Homo sapiens: one gene and its partners. The protein of the gene in region 3 purifies or fractionates together with the protein of the main gene of each other region. This does not show direct contact. Each region holds a gene or a part of one and is shown on either strand. Other genes may lie near its edges. The genes, in order: AMFR, TMUB2, RNF185 and BRI3BP.

Region 1 (5,594 bases), on a different chromosome or scaffold from region 3:
GGTGTAAAATGGAAGGGCGGACTGAGAACTTCACTTCTTGCATCATTTTAAGCTACTTAATAAGCTCCTGCTCTAAACACTGTGATATGGCTGTTTTGTAATGTGTCAAGACCCTCTAAAATTGATCCAAGTAATTTTCTCTTTTCACACATCAGAAACCTGTGAACATGTGGAATTAGTGGCACCTACAATGGGTGCAACGTGTGAAGTATAATGTAATTCGAGGACAGTAAAATAATCTTTCGCTACACACTTACCTGAAAAAAAAAAAGATATAAATACAAGGGGAAGAAAAATGTAGTTCTGCCTTCCCCAAATACACTACTAGGAAAAACAAAAGTTCCCAATTCAAAAACATGGGAAAAAACCCTCCAACCAAAATAGTATACACAAAATCCAAATCAAAATGGGGTTTAACGTTGGCACCTCTGGAAAAAGATGCCTTAGCTTCCAGCCACACAAAAACATGCCTTAGCTTCCAGCCACACACAACACACCAATAGAGTTTGCTTTTTATTATTATTATTGTTTTACAATAAAAACAAATAGCTATGCTCTCAGCAAAACAAATTAAAAAAAAAAATCACAGAAATTTACTAACAGCATTTCAAGGTAAGGCTTTTGAAAGATTTATTGAAATAAATTATCTTTGCCTAAAAATTTACCTATCACCTTTTTCAATTACTTTTCAACATTCTAAAAACTTTCCGTTATGTAAAATACATTTAAACTTTGCCAATAATTGTGGATAATACTGGATTCTTCCCAAAAGGACTACCACAAAACAAAGCTTTCAAAGAGTAAAAAAAAAAAAAAAAAAAAAAAAAAAAAAAGTAATCCAATGGGGCATAAAACTGAGGTCTGTAACCTATGACTTCATGGTTCAAATCCTTAAAGTTAAACATGTGAAGAATTTGAAGAGATTTGGGACCTGGGCCCTCTCCAAGGCAGGTAGGTTCACACCTTACCTTCTCTGCTGAATTAAACCAGGAATAACACAGCTAGGAAAACGCAGTGCTCCCAGGATAAAAGATACAAAAGTTCTTTTTTATTTCTTTAATAAAGCCCTTCAAGGTTTACTCTCCCATCTTGCAAGGCCCACATCTTGTTCAAGGACCAAACCCACAGGCTTTAGCACTGCCTAATTTACTTCACCAATGAATGAAAACCATAAACCAAAGCTTGCTGCCTAACCACTCCCCAGGTCCAGACGGGACAAGGAAATGCTGAGAGGGGAGGGGACCCATGGGGCACACTCATGAGATGCAGGAGCACCAGAGTTCACGGAAATCAAGCCGGCTTTGGACTGGAGGCTCGGAAAGTCAGTCCCAGATGTAGTGGGACAGAAAGGGGTGACTTCATCACACCCTATAGCCCTGGACTTTCCCCTCCTCTGCTCCAGGTATCGAACCAAGAGTTCCTTTTCCAAGATGCCCTGCTGGCTCAGGGGTGCATGAGCCCGTGGGTCTGGCCTCTGGCACAGTCTACATGCTTCCACAACAACGACAGCAGTTTGATAACAGATGTTACCCCACGACGTGGGGGCGGGCTCACACTGTGCGCCTCCCCCACACTCTTCCCACTGGGTGTGGTGCTCAGGACACCTGCATTTGTGGGACGTACGCATGAGGCAGGAGTAGAAGCTGCCTGCTGCAGGCAGGCGACTGCTCACTTCCTCCTGATCGTCCCCCACCCCAAGCAGTCCAGTCAACACCAGAAGAGATCATACCTACAGTTAAAATTTGCAGTGTTTCTAAGGGGAAGAGAAATGTCACATAGAAAGTATTACAAAGAAGGATTAAATTTATCAGCTGTCCAAACACTATAAGACCACATGCTTTATACAGCGGCAATGCAGTCAAGCCCGCTTTTCCATGGAGCGGGCAGAATTGGGACAGGCCTCCTCCAGTCAGTCGGGCACAGGGCGCAGGAGGCAGCTGAGGAAGGCAAGGGAGCGCTAGGAGGTCTGCTGCTTCTGAAGCCTCCGTTCCGCGGCGGCAGCCAGCATCCTTCGACGCAGGGTCACGGGGTCAGAGGACGCACCTTCCGAGGGGAGGAAGCTCTCTGAGGCCGCATCATCTTCAGAACTTTTGTTCAAGAAACGTCTAGAAAAAACAGAAGACTTTTTCTCTCTCATAGGAGAGATGGGGAGCTGTGGAACACAGCCAGAAGGTTGATTTCACATCTCCCCATGTCCAGGCACCTTCATGAAGCTGTCACTCAGCACCACCCAATGACCAAGACATCCAGCCCCCAACAGATGGGCGCAAATTCTCTCTGCACCAGGGAGGAACCCTTCAGTGCTGTTCCCTGCTGTCTCTTCCTGCCCATCCCCTCCACCCACAGACACAGCACAGAACTCCCACAATCACAGGGTCTGCCAGGGCCCAAACCCACTTGAGGAACACAGTGCTGGCCCTGTCCTTAAGAGCTGGAACAAAACCCCCTCTATCCACAGGACACACCTGCTGTAGCTGCCACCAACCATGGGTGTGTGACGCACAGATGCGCTGAGTGTGTGTACAATGCTCAGCTGAAAGGCAGAGTGGTCAACAGGGAGGACCTGGGAGACAGACGCCAGGGCCAGGCCAGTGCTAACCTCTCCAGCCTCCATTTCTTCAGCTGTATGTCAGCTGAATGGGTTAACAGTGCTCCCTCTTAGAGCTGTTAAAGTAATTCATATAAAGGGCTTAGATCAGGTTAGCACACAAGTGCTCTCTCGGCAAGCGTGGCCAAAGGGGTCCATGGGAGATGACTGACAGTACCAGCATCAGAGGTAGACCAGTGGGGCCCAGTGTTACCAGATGCTCTGGTTTTTTCAAGAGAGGCTTGAAATCTGAGTTTTGGGGTGGCATGTAATGCCGTTTCACTGTTGGCATCTGTTTAAAAAGAGAAGACGGCCTGACAACGGCCTTCAGCCACTAGTTTTTGATCTGGATTATGCCAGGTGGTCTGGAGAAGCGACTCACTTGCGAGCTTGCTGGAGGAGTTCGTCCTTACGCTGCACCAGCATGCGCTGTCTCTCATCAGCAGACTTGGAGAAGCGGCTCCCACGAGCCTCGAAGTCTTCCACCTCACTGGGCTCCACTTCCACCTCGCCGAAGTCCAGCGTCTCCTCCAGGCGAGGACTGAGGTCCAGTGGCACACGCTCGGTCTGGACACGGGGCAGGAAGCAAGGAGGCAGCTGTGAGCACAGGCCTCCCTCCTAAGCAGGTTCCTCACCTACAGGGCACCCCAGACACGGCTGTTCTGGACGCAAAGAGAAGGCTGCTGCCAAGCAGGGAGGCAGAAACTAGGAACCACAAGCTACGGATAATGGAGCAGCAGCTTCCCTGAGGGCAGGCCTGCTGCCTATGGCTTGAGTAGTACTAAGAACAGGACCTGACTCACACAGAATGTTCGGCATCAGAGGGTAAGTAAATGATTACCAGCATGAAAAACGTAAGCACCTTCAAGCTGCACTCTTAGAATACGCTACCAACACGACAACCGTGAGTTTACATCCTGGGAATTTTCTGTTCACTTCTACTAATTGCTCAAACATTTAAACCAGTCTTATCCAATCTTCTGCACAAATTTTATATCCTCAATTGACTCTGAAAACAGAGGTAAAAAGGAAAACTGCTAGGCATCTATTTATTTATTTATTTACAGACAGGGTCTCACTCTGTCACCCAGGCTGGAGTGCAGTGGCACAATCTCTGCTCACCACAGCCTCAACCTCCCCAGGCTCAGGGGATCCTCCCAACTTAGCCTCCCAAGTAGCTGTGACCACAGGCTCGTGCCACCACATCTGGCTAATTTTTGTATTTTTTGTAGAGACAGGGTTTTGCTTTGTTGCCCAGGCTGGTCTCAAACTACTGGACTCAAGCAATCTACCCACCTCAGCCTCCCAAAGTGCTGGGACTACAGGCATGAGCCACTGTGCCCAGCCCTAAGGATCTTTTGAAAAGACACAGGATGGATTATATGGTTCCTTGGCTTTGGTTGAAGCTCCAAAGTCCACGACAATGCCCAGGCACCCCCAGGTCCTAGCAGGTGCCTGACCATCTGCGCTGCTCATGCTCCCAGATGCAGACCTGCGCTGGCCAGGGTCAGCCCATTGCCCGCTTCTAGGCTGTGACAGAATGGAGGTGGGTGCAGCTGAGAGGCAGGCTGTTTTACTTCAGAGTTCCTGCTGGACCTACCCTCACTTTTTCCTGCCTTCAGCTAAGCTCGAGAGGGAACTTCAAGAGAACCATTCGTATCCCCGAGAGTCAAAGGACGGGGGAACTGGTGGCTGCATACACTTGAGAAATCTACAGAAAGAAACTGGCAGGAGCCAATAAAATACAGGGCCAGGGGAGCTGTGACGGGAGCACGTTCACCTTCCACTGACTCCAGACAACACTGTGTGTGTCCTGGAGCTTGGATAGGGCTCCTGCAGGAGGGAACCAACCTAAGGTTGTTGAAAACAACTGTGCCCAAAAGGACCACTTGGAGAGGTAACAGGACCCCCATGAAGGTGGGAGTGGTCATCAATAGCCAGCCCAGGGTCAAAGGAGGAGTTTCTGGGGCCAGATGGGGACAGGGAGATAGTTGGCATAACATGTACACACACACACACAGACACACGTAGTTGGCACAACATGTAGGTACATACACACACACGCACACACACGCTGGAGTCTCACTGTCCTATTCTATCCCTCTCCTCTAAGCCTGACCCTAGAGCAGGTTAGAAAAAATGGTGAGTGAAGAGGCGAGATGTTAGAAAGAAAACAGCCGCCCACCGCAACCCCTGCTCTGTGCAGCTGCATGCCTGACTAATACCAGCCTGAGCGGGGCAGGGCAGAGATTAGAACAGAGGGAGAGTGGAGCTGACAAGCTTACTGGGCTACACTGAGGTTTCTGTTAACTAATTGTTATTCAAGGACTTTGTATTTCTTCACAAATGACCAAAAATGTTGCACAGCAAGGTTCCCTGTGAAATACATACTTTCCTCCATTATATATACATATATATATATAAAATCCAGAACTCTTCATGCTAACTCTAGAAGCAGCAGTGGAAAATCAAGACAGGGACTGAATATGCTGTACCCACAGATGCCCCCAAGCCCACAGCATCCATATCTCAGCTGCGCCAGCTATTCAAAAACTGGAGGCCGGGCGCGGTGGCTCACGCCTGTAATCCCAGCACTTTGGGAGGCAGAGGCGGGCGGATCATGAGGTCAGGAGATCGAGACCATCCTGGCTAACACAGCGAAACCCCGCCTCTACTAAAAATACAAAAAATTAGCCAGGCGTGGTGGTGGGCGCCTGTAGTCCCAGCTACTCGGGAGGCTGAGGCAGGAGAATGGCGTGAACCCGGGAGGCGGAGCTTGCAGTGAGCCGAGATCGCACCACTGCACTCCAGCCTGGGTGACAGAGCGAGACTCCGTCTCAAAAAAAAAAAAAAAAAAAAAAAACTGGAAATGTAGACATGGACCCCTTAGAAGCCATGCACCATTTCACAAATGATGCATAATCCAATTACATAGGTGGATATGAAAATCTTAACCCAGCAACAGATTTGAAGAAGGCCTAGTAGTGTTTACTGTTTCCTCTTTGTA
Region 2 (6,931 bases), on a different chromosome or scaffold from region 3:
CTGCACTCCAGCCTGGGCGACAGAGTGAGACCCCGTCTCAAAAAAAAATAAAAAAATGAATAAAAATAACAGAAACACAAAGCCTCTCATAGACCCAGAACCTATAGTACCTATCACAGGAGGGAACTGGGGAGGAGCTCCCAGCAGTCTTCTCCTGAGTCAGCAGTCTTTTTGCTGAGGGATCCTAGGGTCTCCAGTCCCAATACCAGTTGGAGTTATACAGTGGAGACAGGGATCCAAAGTCCTGGGGTCTGCCTCCTGCTGCAGCTGCCCAACTTTCCCTCCTCCAGGAGAGTTATATCTTTGGGATTCCATTTCATCAACACAAAGACAGTTTTTTCACCTTGTTATGCAGAATGCAACACCCCCTTTCTGGATGAAAATTTGTGCTTTAGTTTTACAGAGCCAAAAGGCCTGACAGAAGAAAAAGAACTCCTCCCTAGAGAGGGAGGCTGGGAGCCTCACTCTCAGGGGCAATGCTGAACTTTCTACCCCTTTACAGCACGCCGACCACAGCCAGCTCAGCCTTTTCTGATATATTTACAACTACAAAAGATACCGTTAAAAAAGAAAAATACCTGGGTGCAGTGGCTTACGCCTGTAATCCCAGCACTTGGGGAGGCCGAGGCGGGTGGATCGCCTGAGGTCAGGAGTTCAAGACCAGCCTGGCTGACATTGTGAAACCCTTTCTCTACTAAAAATACAAAAAGTAGGCCAGGCGCGATAGCTCACGCCTATAATCCCAGCACTTTCGGAGGCCGAGGCAGGCAGATCACCTGAGGCCAGGAGTTCGAGACCAGCCTGGCCAACATGGTGAAACCCTTCCCTACTAAAAATACAAAAATTAGCCAGGTGTGGTGGCACACACATATACTCCCAGCTATTCAGTAGGTTGAGGCAGGAGAATCACTTGAACCTGGGAGGCGGAAGTTGCAGTGAGCTGAGATCTCCCACTGCACTCCAGCCTGGGTGACAGCAAAACTCGTCTCCAAAAAAAAAAAAAAAAAAATCAGGATACAAGGCCAGGTGTGCAAATCCTGTTGGTGGACAAATCGCCTCTTTGGGGGCAATTTGGCCACTTCCTTAAACACTGTTCCCAGTTACACAAAAGGCAGGCTACATACAGGAATATTCCTCTCAGCGTTGCTTGCAACAACTCATGTTGGAGTGGTTAGACAAATCCATATTACCCATGGCAGGAAAGAACTAGGGAGGGATTCCAAGTGACCAGCATGTGTACTGCCTTGGGAAGATCTCCCAGAGTGGTTTTTATTGATTGATTGAAACGGGGTCTTTCTGTATGCCAGGCTGGAGTGCAGTGACGCAATCACAGCTCACTGTAGCCTTGACCTCCTAGGCTCCAATGATTCTCCCACCTCAGCCTCCCAAGTAGCTGGGACTACAGGCACACACCGCCAGGCCTGGCTAATTTTTAAATTTTTTGTAGCGACAGGGTCTCGCAATGTTGCCCATGCTGGTTTCAAACTCCTGGACTCAAGTGATCCTCCCACCTTAGCCTCCCCAAGTGCTGCAATTACACTCTAGAGCCACCATGCTCAGCTGAAGACAATTATTTTCCTTTACATTTTTTTTTATTTTGAGACGGAGTCTCACTCTGTCTCCCAGGTTGGAGCATAGTGGCGCGATCACAGCTCTCTGCAATCTTGACCCTAGGGTCAAGCAATCATCCCACCTCAGCCTCCTGAGTAGCTGGCTCATGGCTCACTGCAGCCTTAACCTCCTAGGGTCAATCATCCCACTTCAGCCTCCTGAGTAGCTGGGACCACAGGCACACGCCACCATGCCCAGCTAATTAATTTTTTTTTAGAGATGGGGGTCTCACCATATTGCCCAGGCTGGTCTTGAACTCCTGGCTCAAGGGATCCTCCTGCCTCAGCCTCCCAAAGTGCTGGGATTACAAGTATGAGCCACTGTGCCCGGCTTTGTGAATGTACTTAATGCCACTGAATTGCAAACTTAAAAATAGTTAAAATGGTTTTAAGTTTTATGTTACGTATATGTATATATTTATCTTTAGAGATAGAGGTCTCCCTGTGTTGCCCAGGCTGGCCTTTAACTCCTGGGCTCAAGTGACACTGCTGAGTCAGCCTTCAGAGTAGCTGGGACTACAGGTGCATGCCACTGTGCCTAGCTATGTTTATTTTACCACAATGAAAGGACTTACAAAAAAGAAGCTAGACACCGAAGAGGATACACAGTTGGATTCCATTTATAGCAAGTACAAAAACAGGAAAAACTAATGTATGGTGACAGACGTCAGAATAGTGATTACTCTTTGGAGGTTAATGGCTAGAAGAAGACATGAAGGGGGAGATTCTGGGGTAATTCTTTCTTTTTTTTTTTTTTCCTGAGACAGAGTCTCGCTCTGTCACCCCAGCTGGCGTGCAGTGGCTCCATCTCAGCTCACTGCAACCTCCGCCTCCCAGGTTCAAGCCATTCTCCTGCCTCAGCCTTCTGAGTAGCCAGGATTACAGGCGTGCGCCACCACGCCCGGCTAATTTTTGTATTTTTAGTAGAGACGGGATTTCACCATGTTACCCAGGCTGGTCTTGAACTCCTGACCTTGTGATCCGCCTGCCTTAGCCTCCTAACGTGTTGGGATTACAGGCGTGAGCCACCGCGCCAGTCCTAATTATCTATTTCTTGATCTAAGTGCTACTTCTGCCAGTGTTCAGTTGGTAGAAGCCACCGAGCTTTTTGCTTATGTTTGCCCCTGTCTGGATTATTTATCCTTTAATCAGTAGTTCTCCAAAACCCCAAACTCCAGCGCTTTTTTTTTTTTTTTTGGAGACAAGGCCTCCCTGTCGGGTGCAATGCAGTGGCTCAGATCATAGCTCACTGCAGCCTCGAACTCCTGAGCTCAAGCGATCCTCCCACCTCTGCCTCCCAAAGCGGTGGGATTACAAGAGTAAGCCACTCCCCCCGGCCACAGTAAGTTTTTAGAAAAAATTTTAATTGCGGCCGAGCGCGGTAGCTCACGCCTGTAATGCCAGCACTTTGGGAGGCCGAGACGGGGGCGGATCACCTGAGGTCGGGAGTTCGAGACCAGCCTGACCAACATGGAGAAACCCTGTCTCTACTAAAATACAAAATTAGCGGGGCGTGGTGGCGCATGCCTGTAATCCCAGCTACTCGGCAGGCTGAGGCAAAAGAATCGCTTGAACCCGGGGGGGCGGAGGTTGCAGTGAGCCGAGATCGCGCCATTGCACTCCAGCCTGGGCAACAAGAGCGGAACTCCCGTCTCAAAAAAGAAAAAATTTTAACTGCAAAAATCTGGATAAGTTCTTGAAAGCTGGACTTTTCCCCCTTTTTGTGTCCTAAGCCTGCGCCGAATCTGTGCCTTCTTTGAAATGCTTTCCCGCCTTCTTTCTCCGGGTCCCACACTACCTGGGGCCGCACTCTTCAAGCACTGGATGCTGACTAACTGGTCTCCTTATCTGTCTTCCCGACTGGCCCAGAGCTGAGTTCTTACTAATCCCCGCTAACCTGGAGTTAGGTGCGCGTTGCAAAGCAGTAACGAATCCAATCAGCCGGGGAGGCAGACAGCAGGGCCGGAAGAACAAAGCTGGAAAGGGAAACGTCGCACCGGCTCTGCCCAGCGGCGCCAGCCCGGGCAACCTTCCGCAGTCGCGAAGCCACGCCCCTTTCCCAAGTACCTCCGCGCTAACTCCTCCCCCCTGGCCCCGCCTCTCACCCTGGATTGCCTAAGGCCCCGCCCACCAGGCGTGGCCCCGCTCTGGGAGGGCCGCAATCCCGCCAACAATGACTCCACCCCTCCTTCCGCTGAGAAACCTGTCCCTTTTATTTAAAGAATACCTTTTACGTCAGCCCGTCTTACGCAGCTTCGCGTCATCAGTGCAAGGCGCGGAGGCGGGACTTCCTGTCCCTGGTATAACAGCTTCCGGGAGAAGCCGGAAGAGACCGGACCCTGAACAGAATCGCAGATTGCCAGCCCTTTTCCCGACCCCTACGGAAAGACGAGTCCAGGGGCCGTCCTGGCGAGGTCAAAACATTTAGTCTGGTCTTTTCAGGTGAGGACTTCCCCATCCAGGCACAGTGCCGGTCCAATCCCCCTTTAATTTCCCATGACTCCTCGCGTCCTGAAGCCCCGCCCCCAGTTCCCCAGCCCCGCCCCGAAGTTTGAGGGGTGTGGACGGTTTGTGACCCCCTTAGCCGACCCTACTCCTCACTGGCCGGGACAACTGGTCTTATCACGGAGGCTGGGGCCAGGCAGCCCTTCGGTTCGGGTGGGCCCATGGACCCCAGTCCAACGCCGAGGGAATAGGACCATCCAAAAGCGGAACCTTCGCCTCAGAAAAAGGGTGCGGGACCCCTCCTCACCGTGCGGTCACGGTACGGACAGGGTAGATCACAGGCTGAGGGACAGAGCAAAGACCCCTGAGGCCGGACACCTGGGGTCCTGCCGGGCCCCTCCCCACGAGAGTTCCCTGTGTCTGTGCCAATCGTTTTCGTCTTTCTTTGCCGCAGTTTCTTTTCCTGTAAATCATGGTTAATAACATTAACCTTCTTACCATCAGGGGTTAGTTGTGGTTGTGATAAATAATTACTACCGTTATTAAGCAATTGCAATTTGCAGTGTGCCAGGCACTGTGCCAAGTATTTTGCTTCGATGATTTCACGTCATCTTCAAAACAACCTCATGAGGTAGGTACTGTTTTTAACCCCATTTTACTGATGAGAAAGCTGAGGCTCTGAGAAAGTTGTCTGAGGTGTTATAGCTAGTAAGACGCAAGACTGGGGTTATAATTAGTTGTTTTTCTAACTCCAGGGCCGGTATATTAAATAAGGATGTTGATGTGTTCCACAGATAATTCTTTGAGCAACTACTGGGGCATTATATTGGACACTTCAGTACCAAGAGAAATACATACGATCCTTGTCTACCAGGAGTCTAATAGAAAGATGGACAGGTACATAAGTATAATGAAGTTTTATAGGTGCTGTGAGAATAGTCTGATAATGGTAATCACCAGACTGGATTTGCCCAGGGACAGCTGTGAAAGCAGCAGATTCTCCAAGGGAAATAGTAGGTACTCCAAGGAGCAAGCAGGGACCCTTCCTGCCTTTCTAAGAAACTGCAGCAGCAGAACCTTCACAGTGAAAGAAGAGAGACTGAGATATGGATTGTGAGAGCTGTTATGGAATCTTTTTCAAATCACTCCACTTGGGGAGTGGTCATTGCAGGAGTGGGCCCATGGTGACCCAGGAAGGTGGTGCTTCTGGTGTCTGTCCCAAGTTGCTCCCCAGGGCTTGCCAGAAGTTTCAGAGGCGGCACATAATGTCTGCTGCATAGTATCTGCCCGCGGTCCCTACAGAGTTATCGTTTTAGATTTGTCTGACTCTGCTTTTGATGGTAGGTCAGTTTTCTTTGGCTCTTGACATCTGGCAGCCTGGATCTGTGACCAGGAATGAAATAGGCTCAAATGAGACAATCTGGCAGGGATGGCTAAACAGTGCTTCCAGGGGGGCCCCACAGTAAAATATTCCAGGCTTTTGGGTCTCTCTGAAGCCACTTTGGAGGCTGCTTAGGAGGCATATTTGCTTGACCAAGCGATAGAAATCCTAGAGAAACTCAGGCCTCAGCAAAGATTTTTCCTCATTCACCAAAAAAGCAACAACAGTAGCAGCAGCAGCAAGGCTGTGGGCTTTTCCTGCTGATCCACACTCATTGGGAAGTTGGAGTTTGAGAGAGGAAGGTCACAGAACGTGAAAGCAAGAGTTTCACAATAGAGGCAAAGGGTAGGGTAGGTCTTTAGGTTTAGGTTGGGGTGCCGGAATTAGGAAGGTTTGTGCCCCCTTCTACACAACACTGAACTCCTTTTTTTTTTTTTTCAGGGCTGGGTCAGTTAGAACCTAAACAAACTAGAGACCTGGTTGCAACCCCTCAGGCTCTGCTGATGCTGTCCCCCTTTGTTCCTGCAGCGTGGACCCTGCCAGCAGCCAGGCCATGGAGCTCTCTGATGTCACCCTCATTGAGGGTGTGGGTAATGAGGTGATGGTGGTGGCAGGTGTGGTGGTGCTGATTCTAGCCTTGGTCCTAGCTTGGCTCTCTACCTACGTAGCAGACAGCGGTAGCAACCAGCTCCTGGGCGCTATTGTGTCAGCAGGCGACACATCCGTCCTCCACCTGGGGCATGTGGACCACCTGGTGGCAGGCCAAGGCAACCCCGAGCCAACTGAACTCCCCCATCCATCAGAGGGTAATGATGAGAAGGCTGAAGAGGCGGGTGAAGGTCGGGGAGACTCCACTGGGGAGGCTGGAGCTGGGGGTGGTGTTGAGCCCAGCCTTGAGCATCTCCTTGACATCCAAGGCCTGCCCAAAAGACAAGCAGGTGCAGGCAGCAGCAGTCCAGAGGCCCCCCTGAGATCTGAGGATAGCACCTGCCTCCCTCCCAGCCCTGGCCTCATCACTGTGCGGCTCAAATTCCTCAATGATACCGAGGAGCTGGCTGTGGCTAGGCCAGAGGATACCGTGGGTGCCCTGAAGAGGTGAGTGGCCTGGGAAGTGGGAAGCTGCTTGTGCTCATCCCCCAGCCCTTGGTTGCCTCTAAGGAGGCTGGTGCAGACATGGGAGCTGCAGCAAAGTGTAAGATCCAGCCCCTACCAAGGGCAGGTAGATACTTTCTTAGAAATACACCCTTCAGGCCGGGTGCAGTGGCTCCCGGGACTTTGGGAGGCCGAGGCGGGTGCATCACGAGGTTAGGAGTTCGAGACCAGCCTGACCAACATGGTGAAACCCCATCTCTACTAAACATACAAAAATCAGCCGGGCGTGGTGGCGCACGCCTGCAATCCCAGCTACTCAGGAGGCTGAGGCAGGAGAATCGCTTGAACCCAGGAGGTGGAGGTTGCAGTGAGCCGAGATTGCGCCACTGCACTCCAGCCTGGG
Region 3 (7,036 bases):
TCTTTGAGTCTCTGGTGAATTCACGAAGTGACCCCAGCTTTAGCTACTGCAATTATGATTTTTATGGGACAGCAATTTCTTGCATCTCTACAGAGGAAGAAGAGGGGGAGTGGGAGGGGAAGGAAAGAGAACAGAGCGGCACTGGGATTTGAAAGGGGAACCTCTCTATCTGAGGAGCCCCCACTGGCTTCAGAAGCAACTTACCAAGGGGTATTTAAAGACATGAAAATTTCCAGAAATACCATTTGGTGCATCCCTTTGTTTCTGTAATATTAAACTCAGGTGAAATTATACTCTGACAGTTTCTCTCTTTCTGCCTCTTCCCTCTGCAGAGTCAGGACCTGCAGAACTGGCTGAAACAAGATTTCATGGTGTCACCCATGAGAGATGACTCAATGCCAAGGCCTGAAGTTATAGAGTGTTTACAGCGGTGGCGATATTCAGGGGTCATCGCCAACTGGTCTCGAGTTCCAAAGCTCTGATGAAGAAACAAGACTCCTTGATGTGTTACTGATCCCACTGATTCCAGGAGTCAAGATTAGCCAGGAAGCCAAACACCAGGAGTTGGGGTGGCACGTCACCAGTCCAGAGCCCTGCCACGGATGTAGGCAGGAGCCCAGCATTAGGCAATCAGGAGCCAGAACATGATCACCAGGGCCACAAATAGGAAGAGGCGTGACAGGAACTGCTCGTCCACATACTGGGGTGTCCCAGGGACAGCTGGAGAGACAGAAAGGAGAAAACAGGCTATTAGAACACTGCAGCTATGCACACTGCCCACTCAGGCCAGAAGTTGACAGCATCAATCTTTATCTCTTTACAACATCAGAATCCTACACACAAAAAGATTTCTTTTTTTTTTTTTTGAAATGTAGTCTCGCTCTGTTGCCCAGGCTAGAGTGCAGTGGCACGATCTCAGCTCACTGCAACCTCCGCTTCCCAGGTTCAAGCGATTCTCCTGCCTCAGCCTCCTAAGTAGCTGGGATTACAGGTGTGCGCCACCAAGCCTGGCTAATTTTTGTATTTTTAGTAGAGACGGGGTTTCACCATGTTGGTCAGGCTGGTCTCGAACTCCTGACCTTGTGATCCGCCTGCCTCAGCCTCCAAAAGTGCTGGGATTACAGGCATGAGCCACCATGCCTGGCCTTTTTTTTTTTTTTTCTTTTTGAGGTGGAGTTTTGCTCTTGTTGCCCAGGCTGGAGTGCAATGGCACGATCTCGGCTCACTGCAACCTCCACCTCCTAGGTTCAAGCGATTCTGCTGCCTCAGCCTCCTGAGTAGCTGGGATTACAGGCACGCACCACCACACCCGGCTAATTTTTTTTTTGTATTTTTAGTAGGAACAGGGTTTCACCATGTTAGCCAGGCTGGTCTCAAACTCCTGACCTCAGATGATCCGCCCACCTCAGCCTCCCAAAGCGTTGGCATTACAGGCATGAGCCATCGCGCCCAGCCAAAAAAAATTTCTAAACCCCAAATAATATCAGGCAAAATGAAACTATGTGGAACAATAACAATAAGGACAAGACACGGTCCAATTTATCATAAAAGGTTTGGCCTGCACATGCAAATAAACCAGGTGATTAACAGGAAACTCTTGCAGGAAATAATGAAAGCAAGCCTACTATTTGTTAAGTATCTTCTATCTGCTAAGTGTTTTGTACATGTTATTATTTGGTGGATATTATTATTTCCATTTTGAGTAGGAAGCAGCTGAAACATAGGTTTGAGGTGACCTGTTCAAGATTGAAAGGCTCAGAAATTAGTGGCAGAGCTCTGCAGCCTCTCCACACACTGCCTCTCAAGGGCCCCACAGGGATTGCCTTCCTTTTCCAGAAGAGAACTAGGATCCAGACAGGCAAAATGACTTGTTTTTCAAGGTAGAGGCAGAACTGGGGTGAGAACCTAAGTCTCCACTCCTCTCTGCTTTAGGAAAAGCTACCATTTAGAGCTCCCTGTCCTGACTTTGGGGGAAGGAGGATAAAAGAATCTGTGTCCAGGATGGGCAAATTGTACCAAGCATGACAAGGGAAAACTGTGACTGTGGCAGGGGGATAAAGTAATCCAGAGTCTAGCCTGGCTGTGGAACTCTGCTTAGCTGGGGAATCCAAGGTTAGCCTTCGACCAGGTTAGAAGGATGCAAGCTATCAGGCAGGTTCTTGCTGGCTTCACAGGAATTTGCCCTTTCTTCAGGGCAGAGTACACCCTATCTTTTGGGGTATACTTCCTCTGAAAAACAAATGTGAACAGAGGATAAACCTTCAAGGCAGATAAAGTAAGAAAGGGCATCCCCAGGGCCGGGCGCGGTGGCTCACGCCTGTAATCCCAGCACATTGGGAGGCCCAGGCGGGCGGATCACGAGGTCAGGAGATCGAGACCATCCTGGCTAACACAGTGAAACCCTGTCTCTACAAAAAAATACAAAAAAATTAGCCAGGCGTGGTGGCAGGCGCCTGTAGTCCCAGCTACTCGGGAGGCTGAGGCAGGAGAATGGCGTAAACCTGGGAGGTGGAACTTGCAGTGAGCCGAGATTGTGCCACTGCACTCCAGCCTGGGGGACAGAGCGAGACTCCATCTCAAAAAAAAAAAAAAAAAAAAAAAGGCATTCCCAAGATATCTTGGTGCTGAGATTCCTCAGCTAGATGCTCTGATGGATTCACGAAGACAGACAGGCAGGCAGGCAGGCAGTCAAGAAAGACTTATAGATCACCTGCTGTGTACCAAGGACCAGGGTGGGGATGAGAATAACTGGGATGACCCAGTTACCATCTTTAGGGCATAAGCTCTTGGCGTGAACCACACAATGGTCACTTCTGTACCATATGCTGTGTCCAGTGCACATGAAGCTCCAACAAGTGCAGGCAGAGCTCAACCGATCATGGCATCTCTGCAGGCTCCACAGTAAGGATCTTGGCTTGGGTGTCAGACTGTGATAAGAGTTCAAGGCACCCACCTCATAGAGGTGGCTTGCACCTATAGAGCAAGGGCTCTATACCGAATGCGGATGGCACTTTCAAGCAGTAGGAGGGAGAACTGCAGCAGCAGTTGGTAGACCTAGGCATGGTTCCCACAGGGCTGAGGCTGCTTCTGACCAGCCTCATGTTGTGTCCTGAAGGAAGCTAGACAGAGATGCCAGAGAATGGAGATGCCTTCACTCCTTATGGGTCATCTCACATTTCCAGGCCCCCAAATGGTCAAAGTGGGAAGTAAATGTGCAGAACTAGGCTTTTCCTCAGCTGAGTATCACTTACAGTTTTCCATTTTATAGACATGGGGTATGTCTTGGTAACATTACTGAGCATTTTCTGATCTGTTAAACGCAGCTAATCACACACCTGTTCCATAGGGTGGTTGTGATGATCCCCTGAGCTTGGAATGGAAAGTGCTATATATATGCATGCCTAATAGTTGGTAAGTGCTCAGCATTGTTACCATGTCTGTAAGTGATCTAAAAACAGCTTAAGATATTTTGAAAAGGCTGATTATCCATGTAGTGACAATTATCTGTAACTTATATACTGCTGAATTCCAAGGAGCTTTCAAGCAATATTACTAAGATATCTTCCTAATTTCTCAAGGAAATAGGGTCTTACCTGGAGGAGGCCGCCCATCATTTATATTAAATGCTGTGGCAAATATCCCAAAGGGAAATGCCCCAATTCCAAAAGACATCTGGAAGCCACCATCTCCAAATCCAAATCCTTGAAATCCCTGTGTGGAAGAAAGGCAATTAAGGGCAGGAGAATCAGGCAGGTTTCTCCTGTGCCTGTCAAAACTCAACATACCTCACGTTGTCTTGCATGTGGCACCTGCCTCTTCTCCCTACCTTGTGCCACATGTTTCGAAGGTGGGGGACAGCTTTTCCTCCCATATATACCCTGAAGTAGAGGAACTCTGGCAAGCCCTCTGCCCTTTTAGCCTTAGCTTCCAGCTAAGAATCTATGAATGGGCCAAAAAGGACTGGCTCTGACCCAGTGTGAAACACTCTGCTGACATAAGTCAGCACTCACAGGGCTTGAGGATATTTTCCATAGTCCCACATTAGCTAGTAACACCTTCTACATGCTTTATAGGAGCAATATTGACAGCCACCCCTGTGCCCAAGGGAACATCAAACAAGCTACACATTATCTTTAATAGCAAAAATGTTGAAACTCTAATTAGCCAACAATGGAAGTCATGATCAAAATCTTGATACATGCATTCAAAGAACCATTACCCTGACTTAAGCGGTAACACTGAACAACTCTTGTGACCAAGTTATCAGACAAAATTGTTTGAACACTGTGGTCACAACTACATGACAATATGTAGGTATATGGACAAGTTACGGATTAAAATTTCTTTTAATACTGTTACATAGAATTTTTACATTTTAAAACACTATAATGTTTTCTGGTTATAAAAGTAATATATACTTGCTATAAGAAACTCACATATTACAGAAATAATTGACAGAGTCAGAGATCTTCTATTCACCTTCCCACTTCGCAGCCACTCCACTTTACCTCTGAAATAACCACTATCAGCAGTTTGGTATATCACCCTCAGTTTTCTTTCCATGTGCATGTTCTACACTGCATCATCTTTCACATGAAAAGATTCAGCAGGAACAATACTGTGAATAAATAACTCCCTTTTTTAAAGCGTGAGCTCTGTGCTAGGCACCATGTTAAGCACTAGGACATATAAATCATGTTTAATTTTTACATTGGCTTCATCTGCATTTCACAGATGACCAAACTGAGGCTTGGAGAGGTGAAATAACTTGACCAAGGAGTACAGTTTAGATCTAAAACTAGGTCAATTTGATCTGAAAACACATGCTTTTCTTTTTCTTTTCTTTTTTTTTGAGACAGGGTCTCGCTCTGTCACCAAGCCTGGAGTGCAATGGTGCAATCATGGCTCACTGTAGACTCAACCTCCCAGGCTCAAGCAATGCTCCCATCTCAGCCTCTTGAGTAGCTGGGACCACAGGTGTACCCCTCCATGCTTTGCTAATTTTTAAATTTTTTGTACAGATAGGGTCTCACTTTGTTGCTCAGGCTGGTCTCAAACTCCTGGGCTCAAGTGATCCTCCCACCTCAGCCTCCCAAAGTGCTGGGATTAGAGGCCAGAGCCACTGTGCCCGGCCTTCATGCTCTTAATTACTGTGCGCATCTTTCAAATATTTTTTTCTCTTCCCCTGCACCCCTGATGAGAGGTTTAGAACAAATGATTTTAAAAATAATAAAAAGCAGACAGACTATTGGGTCAAATGCTCTTCACAAAGAGCTCAATGGCCTTCATTTATGAGTTTTTTGCAAGTCACAAAAATAGCTGCTCTCCATCACACACTGATCAGCCTGGCATCTAGTTCCAAACTTCTTGCCAGATGGCATCACCTATAAAGCCTAACAGCTGACTTAATGAGAGGGCAAACCTAAAGGGAGGGAAAACAAAGAGTTTCCATCTCCTCAATACAAAATGCCTCCTACTCAGTTCATGGTTGAATCTAATGGCTCCTGGGACTGAGGCTGCCTTACTTGGGAAGGTGCAATTGTTTCATCAGGAACCACAGATTCATTCAGTGCAATCCTGAGGACTAACCGTTCTGCTTCCCTTCTAGCAACATCTTTATGATCTCACCAGTCCATACATTTGGTGGGATTATGTTCCTGGGCCAGAGTATGCAAAAAAACATCGCTAGTAGCTGCAGGTGCTTATAAATGCTAGAGGTATGCACTTTGGTCAACAAGGCCAGGGCCTCTGGCTTCTGGGGGCCTCTGATTCCTGCATTAGTTGCTAATGCTCTGTAGGAAACCAAAACCTAGGAATGTTAAAGTGGTGTCACCTGGTGGTCAAGAGCAGAGACTTCAATACCAGCCAGATCTGGGTTTCAGCACTGTACGTGTGGCCCTGGACAGATCACTTTACCTATCTGGGCCTCAGTTTCCTCCTCCGTTAAATGAGTTGATGTGAGGCTTAAATGAGATCATGCATATAAAGCTCTTAACATATAGTTATTTCCATATAGTAACCATTCAACAAGTGTTCACTGCTAGTATTATTATTAAGGGTAATCCGGAGAAGAGAACCTTAATTTCTTTCTTTCTTTTTTTTTTTTTTTGAGACAGAGTCTTGCTCTGTCGCCAAGGCTGGAGTGCAGTGGTGTGATCTCAGCTCACTGCAACCTCTGCCTCCCGAGTTCAAGTGATTCTCCTGTTTCAGCCTCCCGAGTAGCTGGGACTACAGGCACATGCCACCACACCCGGCTAATTTTTATGTTTTTAAGAAAGCAGAGACAGGGTTTCACCATATTGGTCAGGCTGGTCTCGAATTCCTGACCTCAGGTGATCCACCCGCCTCAGCCTCCCAAAGTGCTGAGATTACAGGTGTGAGCCACCACGCCCAGCCGAGAACCTTAATTTCTTTCAAGATCCCTGACTCAATAATCCTACTCCTGGAAATCCTAATAAAATGCCATTATTCAAACTCAAAAAAAAAAAAAAAAAAAAAAAAAAAGAAAGTGGCAGTGCGCGGTGGCTCACGCCTGTAATCCCAGCACTTTGGGAGGCCAAGGAGGGCGGATCATCTGAGCTTGGGAGTTCGAGACCAGCCTGACCAACATGGAGAAACCTCGTCTCTACTAAAAATACAAAAATTAGCTGGGCATGGTGGCCCATGCCTATAATCCCAGCTACTCTGGAGGCTGAGGCAGAAGAATTGTTTAAACCCGGGAGGCAGAGGCTGTGGTGAGCCGAGATCGCACTACTACACTCCAGTTGGGCAACAAGAGTGAAACTTCATCTCAAAAAAAAAAAAAAAAAAAAAAGTGTGCAAAGATGGTTATTGTAGCATTATTTAAACAGCAAAATGGGGAAACAACTAAAAGGTCCTTCGATGAGGAAAACCCAAATTACAATGAACCAAAACTCAATGGGTTCCCAGCAATAGCATGGAAAAATAAAAAATAATAAAAAACTCAATAGGATAAATGGCAGCCTAAATAATAAAGAGGACACTTCAGAGCATCATGGAAAACCTGCCAAAATTA
Region 4 (7,638 bases), on a different chromosome or scaffold from region 3:
TGCTGGCAGACCCAGTTTTCCTTTATTTAAAATTCACAAAACAGGCTGGGCACGGTGGCTTACGCCTGTAATCCCAGCACTTTTGGAAGGCTGAGGTCGGCAGATCACTTGAGGTCAGGAGTTTGAGACCAGCCTGGCCAACATGATGAAACCTCATCTCTACCAAAAACATAAAAAATTAGCCGGATGTGGTGGTGCTCACTTGTAATCCCGGCTACTCACTTGTAATCCCGGCTACTCAGGAGGCTGAGGCAGGAGAATTGCTTGCCCAGGAGGCAGACGTTGCCGTGAGCCAAGATCGTGCCAACGCACTCCAGCCTGGGTGACAGAGTAAGAGTCTGTCTCAAAAAATAAATTAATTAATTAAATTTAAAAAAAAACCCATAAAATTAACAAAACAATATCCCCAAGCCTGGCCAGTGTGGGCTACACTCAGCAGGAAATAAAATAAGTCAGGCCAGGTGCAATGGCTCACACCTGTAATCCCAGCACTTTGGAAGGCCGAGGCGGGAGGATCACTTGAGGTCAGGAGTTTGAGACCAGACTGGTCAACATGGTGAAACCTCTTTTCTACTAAAAATACAAAACTTAGCCAGGCATGCTGGTGGACACCTGTAATCCCAACTACTTGGGAGGGTGAGTGGGGAAGATCGCTTGAACCTGGGAGGTGGAGGTTGTAGTGAGACGAGATCACTCCACTGCACTCCAGCCTGAGCAACAGAGCCAGACCTCCGTCTCAAAAAAACAAAAAGGAAAGAAGTCAGGTCAGCCTCTGGATGCTGTACTGACTCGGGGAACAGGGAAGGGGTCATGAAGCAGGAAAACAGGCGAGAGATACTAATGTGGGCTCCATGTCCACTCTGCCTAGGTTCACATCCTGGCTCTGCCACTCATCTGACCTGAAACCAGCCACTTCACTGCTCTGTGTCTCAGTTTCCTCATCTGTCAAATGGGAACAGTAACAGTACCTACTGCACAGGGTCATTCTAAGGATTACATAAGATTATTCTATCTACAAAAGCACTTAGTAATCATTAGTATCTCTATTAAAGGCACAAACCCCGGTTTAGCCCAGGAAGAGCTCTGACCCCCAGATTCGGAGATGCTCTGCCAGAATACAGATTGTCTTATTTAAGTAAAAGTCTTAAATAACCACTCGTATTTCATGTTTGTTGGCCTTAGATTGTCACATGGAACCACCGTCAGTTGAGACATGGGGATCCTGTGGTCACCCTGCGTGAAAAAGACAGGCTTATTTTTGCTCTAAAACAAATGATTTCTGCCTTCAAATAGCTCCGAAACGGCATCAAGAGGAAGTAAGTGAGACTCCCTGCACTCACACCCCTGATCCTTTCCCGCGCCAGACTCCAGGGCAACCTTTTCACATTCAGGCGTTCAGCCCTGCTTCCTTGCCCCTCTTTGGCCACCTACAAAGCGTTCTCTCCCCTACATGTATGAAGACACAGACCCACCTGTGCAAGAGGTGCCCCTGCCCACAGGAGAGGGAGGTCAAAACTTACTGTTTTCCTAACAAATTAACCTTTCATGTTATCCAGTAAGAACATGCAGTCAATCTGATTTCGGCCTTCATATTCCCTTCTATTCCCCACTCCCTCTCAATGAGCAGAAAACTTTAACTTTTTAGCCATGATTCTGGGCCAGGAAGGTACCAACTAGTCATAATTACAACCTCGCAATGAAGGGGAATGATTACTATCCCCATTTAACAAATAAAGAAACAAGCTCAAAGAAGTGAAGTCACTTCCCCAAAGTCATCCAACTGGTAGAGCTCCAACTTGAACCCAAACTTCTCTGACTCCAAAACCCCAGGAAGGCTGGCGGCAAGCAAGAGCCCCCTCCTCCCCAGGGAACAGCAAAGGAACCGCAATACCACACACAACTGTCCCCAGTAACTTCCTCCTTCTCAAGAGCTAGTCGGCGGACTTCGGCCCGGAATGGCACCCCTATCGCACCTAGCTCCAGAGAGCAGGAATTGGGGAAAACCCCCTGCGATCCTCCTGGGACTCAACACCCTTCCCAGGAGGCTGCAGGATCCGGGACCTCCCCAAACTAAACAAAAGGCTCCACGCGAAAGGCCCCGCACACAGTAGGTGCTCGGTTTCCCAAAGCCACCGAGCAAATCGCATTGCTCCCTTCTTTTCCTGTAAAGTAAAAACAACTCCAAGTATCTTCAAAGCAGGAGGAGGAGTGGGGCAGAAGGTCCCAGGGGAAGTGGGTCGGGATGCGAGGCTAGGACAAACCCGGGGTAGCTGGGGAGGGCGCAGCCGCGTGGGGACCGAGAGCGCCAGTGTGCTGCCTGGCTCACAGTAGGAGCCATTCAAACGCGGTGAATGAATGAATGAGACGCGCGGCAGGCGTCAGCGCAGCCGGGAGAGACTCTGGCTGCGCCGACCGCGGAGGCAAGGTCCAAGGAGAAGCGCGGCGCAGAGGAGAGGGCGCCCCGAGGCCCGGCCGCCCAGACCCGCACTGGTCAGGCCCGGCGGGGGCCGCAGGCGGCAGGCCCCGAGGCGCAGGCCGGACCCCCTCTTCCCGCGCGCTGGCCGGGCGGGCAGCCCCGGAGGCCGCGCTCCTCCCAGGTCGGCCCCGGTAGCCAGGTGCGTGGCGACCGGGGCAAGGTGACCGCGGGCGCGGGCCCGGCGCCCACCTTCTGAGCGGCGCGCACGTTGTCCTCGCCGAACAGGCTGCTGACGCTCTGGGAGAAGGTGTTGACCGTGCGGCGGTAGCTGTTCTTCTCCGCGCCGCCGCGGCCCCGCGCCCCCTGCGCGCCCGGGGCCAGCAGCCCGAGCAGCAGCAGCAGCAGCAGCAGCAGCAGGAGCCCGGCCCGGGCCAGGGGCCCGCCTGAGGCGCGCGCGCCCATGCTCGGCCGGCGGGGCGCGGGGTCGCGATGCGGGGTGAGGGCCGTGCGCTGGGCCGCAGCGGGCTCCGGCTAGGGCAAGGTTGGCGCGCTCGGGGGCCGCGCGCCGCGCCTTTACCCACAGCCGCCGCCGCCGCTGCTGCGCCACCTGCCCCGCCCCGCGCGCAAAGGCGCACGGCCCAGCCCACGCCGCGCCCCGCCCCCGGCGCGGGACCAACGCGACCCGGCCCCGGGGCCCCGCGCCCGCCTCCCGGAAGCCTGCCCCGACCCGGTGCGGCTTCTCATCATTTAAAAAAAAATTCTCTTTTTTAACTTATCCGTGGAAAAGCAACCCGTGCCTGTAAAACTTGCAACAGCTTCAACCAGGAAAGTGACTGCAACTGATTGAAAAACATGAAATAGACATATATGTAATCTCCCTGAATGTATTATAATGGTACCCCAAAATTCGCCCTCGTGGGCATCAGCTCATTCATCCTGAAAATTTTAAATAACAAGAAAGCATCAGGCATCCTCCTGCCCTTCCTGAATGAACTGTATTTCAGAGCCCCAAAATAGTTGGGGAGGGACTTTCTTTTACAAAGTCCAGCTAATACATGAGGATGAATGAGAGAATCCGAAAATTATTTGGCACCCCTCAATAGAATGATGGATTCACGCGATGATCATCAGAAATGGGTACAACCAAGAGGGGAGGGTTTGGCGGGGAACTTGAAAATGGAGGGGCTAAGCCGCGAAGTCCCGGTCCCGCCAATCGATCTTAGTGCCAGGAAGTACCAGCGCCACCTGCGATGGATTCTTGCCAAGACAAGTTGAGCATGAACCTGATGGGGCCTCTAGATCAAACCTACAGTTTACAGGAAATATGGCAGATAAGGAAAACTTAGAAGCAGCAGAAGCAACCAACCAACTCCAGCATGTGGGGCATTCTACCAAACAAACGACCCAGTTTGTTCAATAAATAATTGGTATAAAAGGTGAGCGAAGAGGAGGATAATTGGTTTTAAAGACTTAAGAGCCATAATAACCCATGCAATGCAAGGACCCTGTTTGCATCCTAAATCAAACAAATCAAGTCTAACCAACATTTTTTTTAGACAACCAAGAAAATAAAACTCAATTTTTGCCAATCCAAAGAATACAAAATGCTCTTATTTTTGAATTTACATTTTCTGGATTCCTAGTAAGATTTTCATAGATTTATTGGCCATTTGAATTACTTCTCTGTGAATTACCTATTCATATCCTTTGCACATTTTTTCCTGTATTGTTTATCTTTTTAAAAACTTTTTTGTAGGTCGGGTGCGGTGGTTAACGCCTGTGATTCCAGCACTTTGGGAGGCTGAGGCGGGTGACCTGAGGTCGGGAGTTCGAGACCAGCTTGACCAACATGGAGAAATCCCTCCGTCTCTACTAAAAATACAAAATGAGGCCAGGCGCCGTGGCTCACGCCTGTAATCCCAGCACTTTGGGAGGCCGAGGCGGGCGGATCACAAGGTCAGCAATTTGGGAGGCCGAGGCGGGCGGATCACGAGGTCAGGAGATCGAGACCATCCTGGCTAACACAGTGAAACCCCGTCTCTACTAAAAATACAATAGCCGGGCGTGGCGGCGGGCGCCGTAGTCCCAGCTACTCAGAGCCTGAGGCAGAAGAATGGCGTGAACCCGGGAGGCGGAAGTTGCAGTGAGCCGAGATCGTGCCACTGCACTCCAGCCTGGGCGACAGAGCGAGACTCCGTCTCAAAAAAAAAAAAAAAAAAAAAAAAAAATCCAAAATGAGCCAGTTATGGTGGTGCCTGCTTGTGATCCCAGCTACTCGGGAGGCTGAGGCAGGACAACCGCCTAAACCTGGGAGGCGGAGGTTGCAGTGAGCCGAGACTAAGCCACTGCACTCCAGCCTGGGCAACAAGAGTGAAACTCCGTCCCAAAAACAAAACAAAACAAAACAAAAACCTTTTTTTACGCCAGGTGTAGTGGCACAAGCTTGTTTTGGGAGGCCAAGGCAGGAGGATTGCTTGAACACAGGAGTTCGAGGCCAGCCTGGCCAACATAGTGAAACCTATCTCTATAAAAAATGATAATAATAATAATAATAATAAACTTTTTAATTAAGGTATAACATACAGAAAAATACACAATCATATAAATTTTTATGAATTTTCACAAACTGAATACCCAAGGTAACCAGCACCCAAATCAAGAAACGAAACATTACCAGTTCCCCCACGAAGCCTCCCTTTGTCCCCTCCCATTCACTATGTTCCTCTTAAAATTTAGGGGATTCATTTGCCTGTGTTTGAAGTTTATGTAAATGAACCACACAGTACTCTGGGGGTTGGCTTCTTTTGTTCAACTTTTTTTTTTATTTATTTTTTATTTTTTGAGACGGAGTCTTGCTCTGTTGCCCAGGCTGGAGTGCAGTGGCATGATCTCGGCTCACTGCAACCTCCGCCTCCGGGGTTCAAGCGATTCTCCTGCCTCAGCCTTCCGTGTAGCTGGGACTATAGGCACGCGCCACCACACCCGGCTAATGTTTGTATTTTTAGTGGAGACAGGTTTCGCCATGTTGGCCAGGCTGGTCTCAAACTCCTGACCTCAGGTGATCCGCCTGCCTTGGCCTCCCAAAGTGCTGGAATTACAGGCGTGAGCCACCACGCCCAGCTTTTGTTCAACTTTATATTTGTGAGATCCATCCATGCTGTTATGTATCTGCCTTCTTCTTGCTGTCTAGAATGGTCTATACCTTCTGGAAGGTAATTCACTGATATATTATATTTTAGAAGGAAATATAGGCAAGTGTACTACTACCTACTTAACATTTTTTAAACGTTTCTTAAACTTTTAATTTATTTAAATAAACATATTTAAAGAAGAAACTTTAGATCACTATCATCCTGAGCAACAAAATCCATAAAAACACAGATTTGAGCCTGGGTGCAGTGGCTCAGGCCCGTAATCTCATCATTTTGAGAGGCCAAGGTGGGCCGATCACTTGATGTCAGGAGTTTGAGACCATCCTGGCCAACATGGTGAGACCCCATCTCTACTAAAAATACAAAAATTAGATGGGCATCTTGGTGGGTGCCTGTAATCCCAGCTACTTGGAAGGCTGAGACAGGAGAATCGCTTGAACCCGAGAGGTGGAGGTTGCAGTGAGCCGAGACTGCTCCACTACACTCCAGCCTGGGCGTCAGAGGGAGAGTTCTGTCTCAAAAAAACAAAAACAAGCAAACAAACAAAAAACCCCATAGATTTGATACGCTAATTATGATTTTTTTAAACGTCATTCATTAAGGCCTTCACAGTGGCTTATGCCTGTAATTCCGGCACTTTGGGAGGCCGAGACAAACGGATCCCTTGAGCCCAGAATTTTGAGACCAGTCTAAGCAACATAGGGAGACACCATCTCTACAAAAAAATAGAAAAATTAGCCCGTCGTGGTGGTGTGTGCCTGTAGTCATAACTACTCAGGAGGCTGAGGTGGGAGGACAGGTCAAGGCTGCAGCGAGTGGTGATTGCACCACTGCACTCTGGCCTGGCCCACAGGGCGAGATCTCATCTCTTAAAAAAAAAAAAAAAAAAGTCGGGCGCGGTGGCTCATGCCTGTAATCCCAGCACTTTGGGAGGCCCAGGCAGGCAGATCACGAGGTCAGGAGTTTGAGACCAGCCTGGCCAACATGGTGAAACTCCGTCTCTACTAAAATACAAAAACTAGCTGGGGGTGGTGGCGGGCACCTGTAGTCCCAGCTACTCGGAAGGCTGAGGCAGGAGAATCGTTTAAACCCGGGAGGCAGAGGTTGCAGTGAGCCGAGATTGCTCCACTACACTCCAGCCTGGGCAACAAAGCCAGACCTTGTCTCAATAATAATAATAATGCATTGTTTCCCAGTGTGTTACAATGTGATGCGGTAATGGGAATTTAAAGTTATGTAATAGACAACTTTATTTTTTTTTTTTTGAGACAGAGTCTAGCTCTGTTGCCCAGGCTGAAGTGCAGTGGTGCAGTCTCGGCTCACTGCAACGTCCACCTCCCGGGTTCAATCAATTCTCTGCCTCAGCCTCCCAAGTAGCTGGGATTACAGACGCCTGCCACCAGGCCTAGCTAAATTTTTTTTGTATTTTTGGTAGAGACGGGGGTTTCACCATCTTGGCCAGGCTGGTCTTGAAATCCTGACCTCGTGATCCGCCCGCCTCGGCCTCCAAAAGTGCTGGGATTACAGGCGTGAGCCACCGCGCCCGTAGAGGCCTCCTTTTAGATCTTCCATCTATCCCTGTGATGGAAATATTTGGTGCCTTTTTAAAAGTACACGACTAATACGTTTCTTGTAGGAATATCAGAAAATACAGATGCGCAAACCAGGGTTGGGGGGAAGAAGTTTGGAGTACTGGGGGCGGGGTATATTTTAAAAGGTGGCAAAACACTTCCACTCCCAAGAAGCCAAATTAGTATCAGTAGATATAATTCATATTTAAACCCAGACTACCCCAAGCGAGAACAGCCCAGGACTTAAACTCCGGCCTCCGCTGGGACCTCAGGCCCCGCCTACTTCTCTAAATAGTCCCGCCCCCTGCCCGGCCCGGCTCCGCCTCTCCTCTTCGCTGGGTTTCTCTTGCAACCCCGCCCCTCAGCGGCAAAGTCAGTTACAGTTCTCGCGATAACACAACCCGGAAGTCTCACGGCCGGAGTTGGTGGTCTGGGAACCCACGTGGGCTGGGTTTCGGATTGCTCTGCTGGTCCGGCCGCTGGAGCGCCCACCCTGGCC

What was found.
Region 1: the proteins of RNF185 (region 3) and AMFR purify together in Homo sapiens (affinity purification with mass spectrometry; 3 studies listed by BioGRID and IntAct, with this or other methods). This does not show direct contact.
Region 2: the proteins of RNF185 (region 3) and TMUB2 purify together in Homo sapiens (affinity purification with western blotting; 3 studies listed by BioGRID and IntAct, with this or other methods). This does not show direct contact.
Region 4: the proteins of RNF185 (region 3) and BRI3BP purify together in Homo sapiens (affinity purification with mass spectrometry; 3 studies listed by BioGRID and IntAct, with this or other methods). This does not show direct contact.

What each region holds. Positions count from the first base shown.
Region 1 is NC_000016.10:56,360,952-56,366,545, forward strand, and holds the end of AMFR (E3 ubiquitin-protein ligase AMFR), read right to left. Parts: intron 3,155-5,594; coding exon 2,970-3,154; intron 2,106-2,969; coding exon 1,958-2,105; 3' UTR 501-1,957; downstream 1-500. UniProt on the Homo sapiens protein: E3 ubiquitin-protein ligase that mediates the polyubiquitination of lysine and cysteine residues on target proteins, such as CD3D, CYP3A4, CFTR, INSIG1, SOAT2/ACAT2 and APOB for proteasomal degradation.
Region 2 is NC_000017.11:44,183,058-44,189,988, forward strand, and holds the start of TMUB2 (transmembrane and ubiquitin-like domain-containing protein 2), read left to right. Parts: upstream 1-3,914; 5' UTR 3,915-4,052; intron 4,053-4,145; exon of another isoform or gene 4,146-4,618; 5' UTR 4,619-4,651; coding exon 4,652-4,686; intron 4,687-4,849; exon of another isoform or gene 4,850-4,944; coding exon of another isoform or gene 4,945-4,952; intron 4,953-5,877; exon of another isoform or gene 5,878-5,964; coding exon 5,965-6,531; intron 6,532-6,931.
Region 3 is NC_000022.11:31,198,173-31,205,208, reverse strand, and holds part of RNF185 (E3 ubiquitin-protein ligase RNF185), read right to left. Parts: intron 3,712-7,036; coding exon 3,594-3,711; intron 721-3,593; coding exon 623-720; 3' UTR 1-622. UniProt on the Homo sapiens protein: E3 ubiquitin-protein ligase that regulates selective mitochondrial autophagy by mediating 'Lys-63'-linked polyubiquitination of BNIP1.
Region 4 is NC_000012.12:124,989,031-124,996,668, reverse strand, and holds the start of BRI3BP (BRI3-binding protein precursor), read right to left. Parts: upstream 3,025-7,638; 5' UTR 2,879-3,024; coding exon 2,666-2,878; intron 1-2,665. UniProt on the Homo sapiens protein: Involved in tumorigenesis and may function by stabilizing p53/TP53.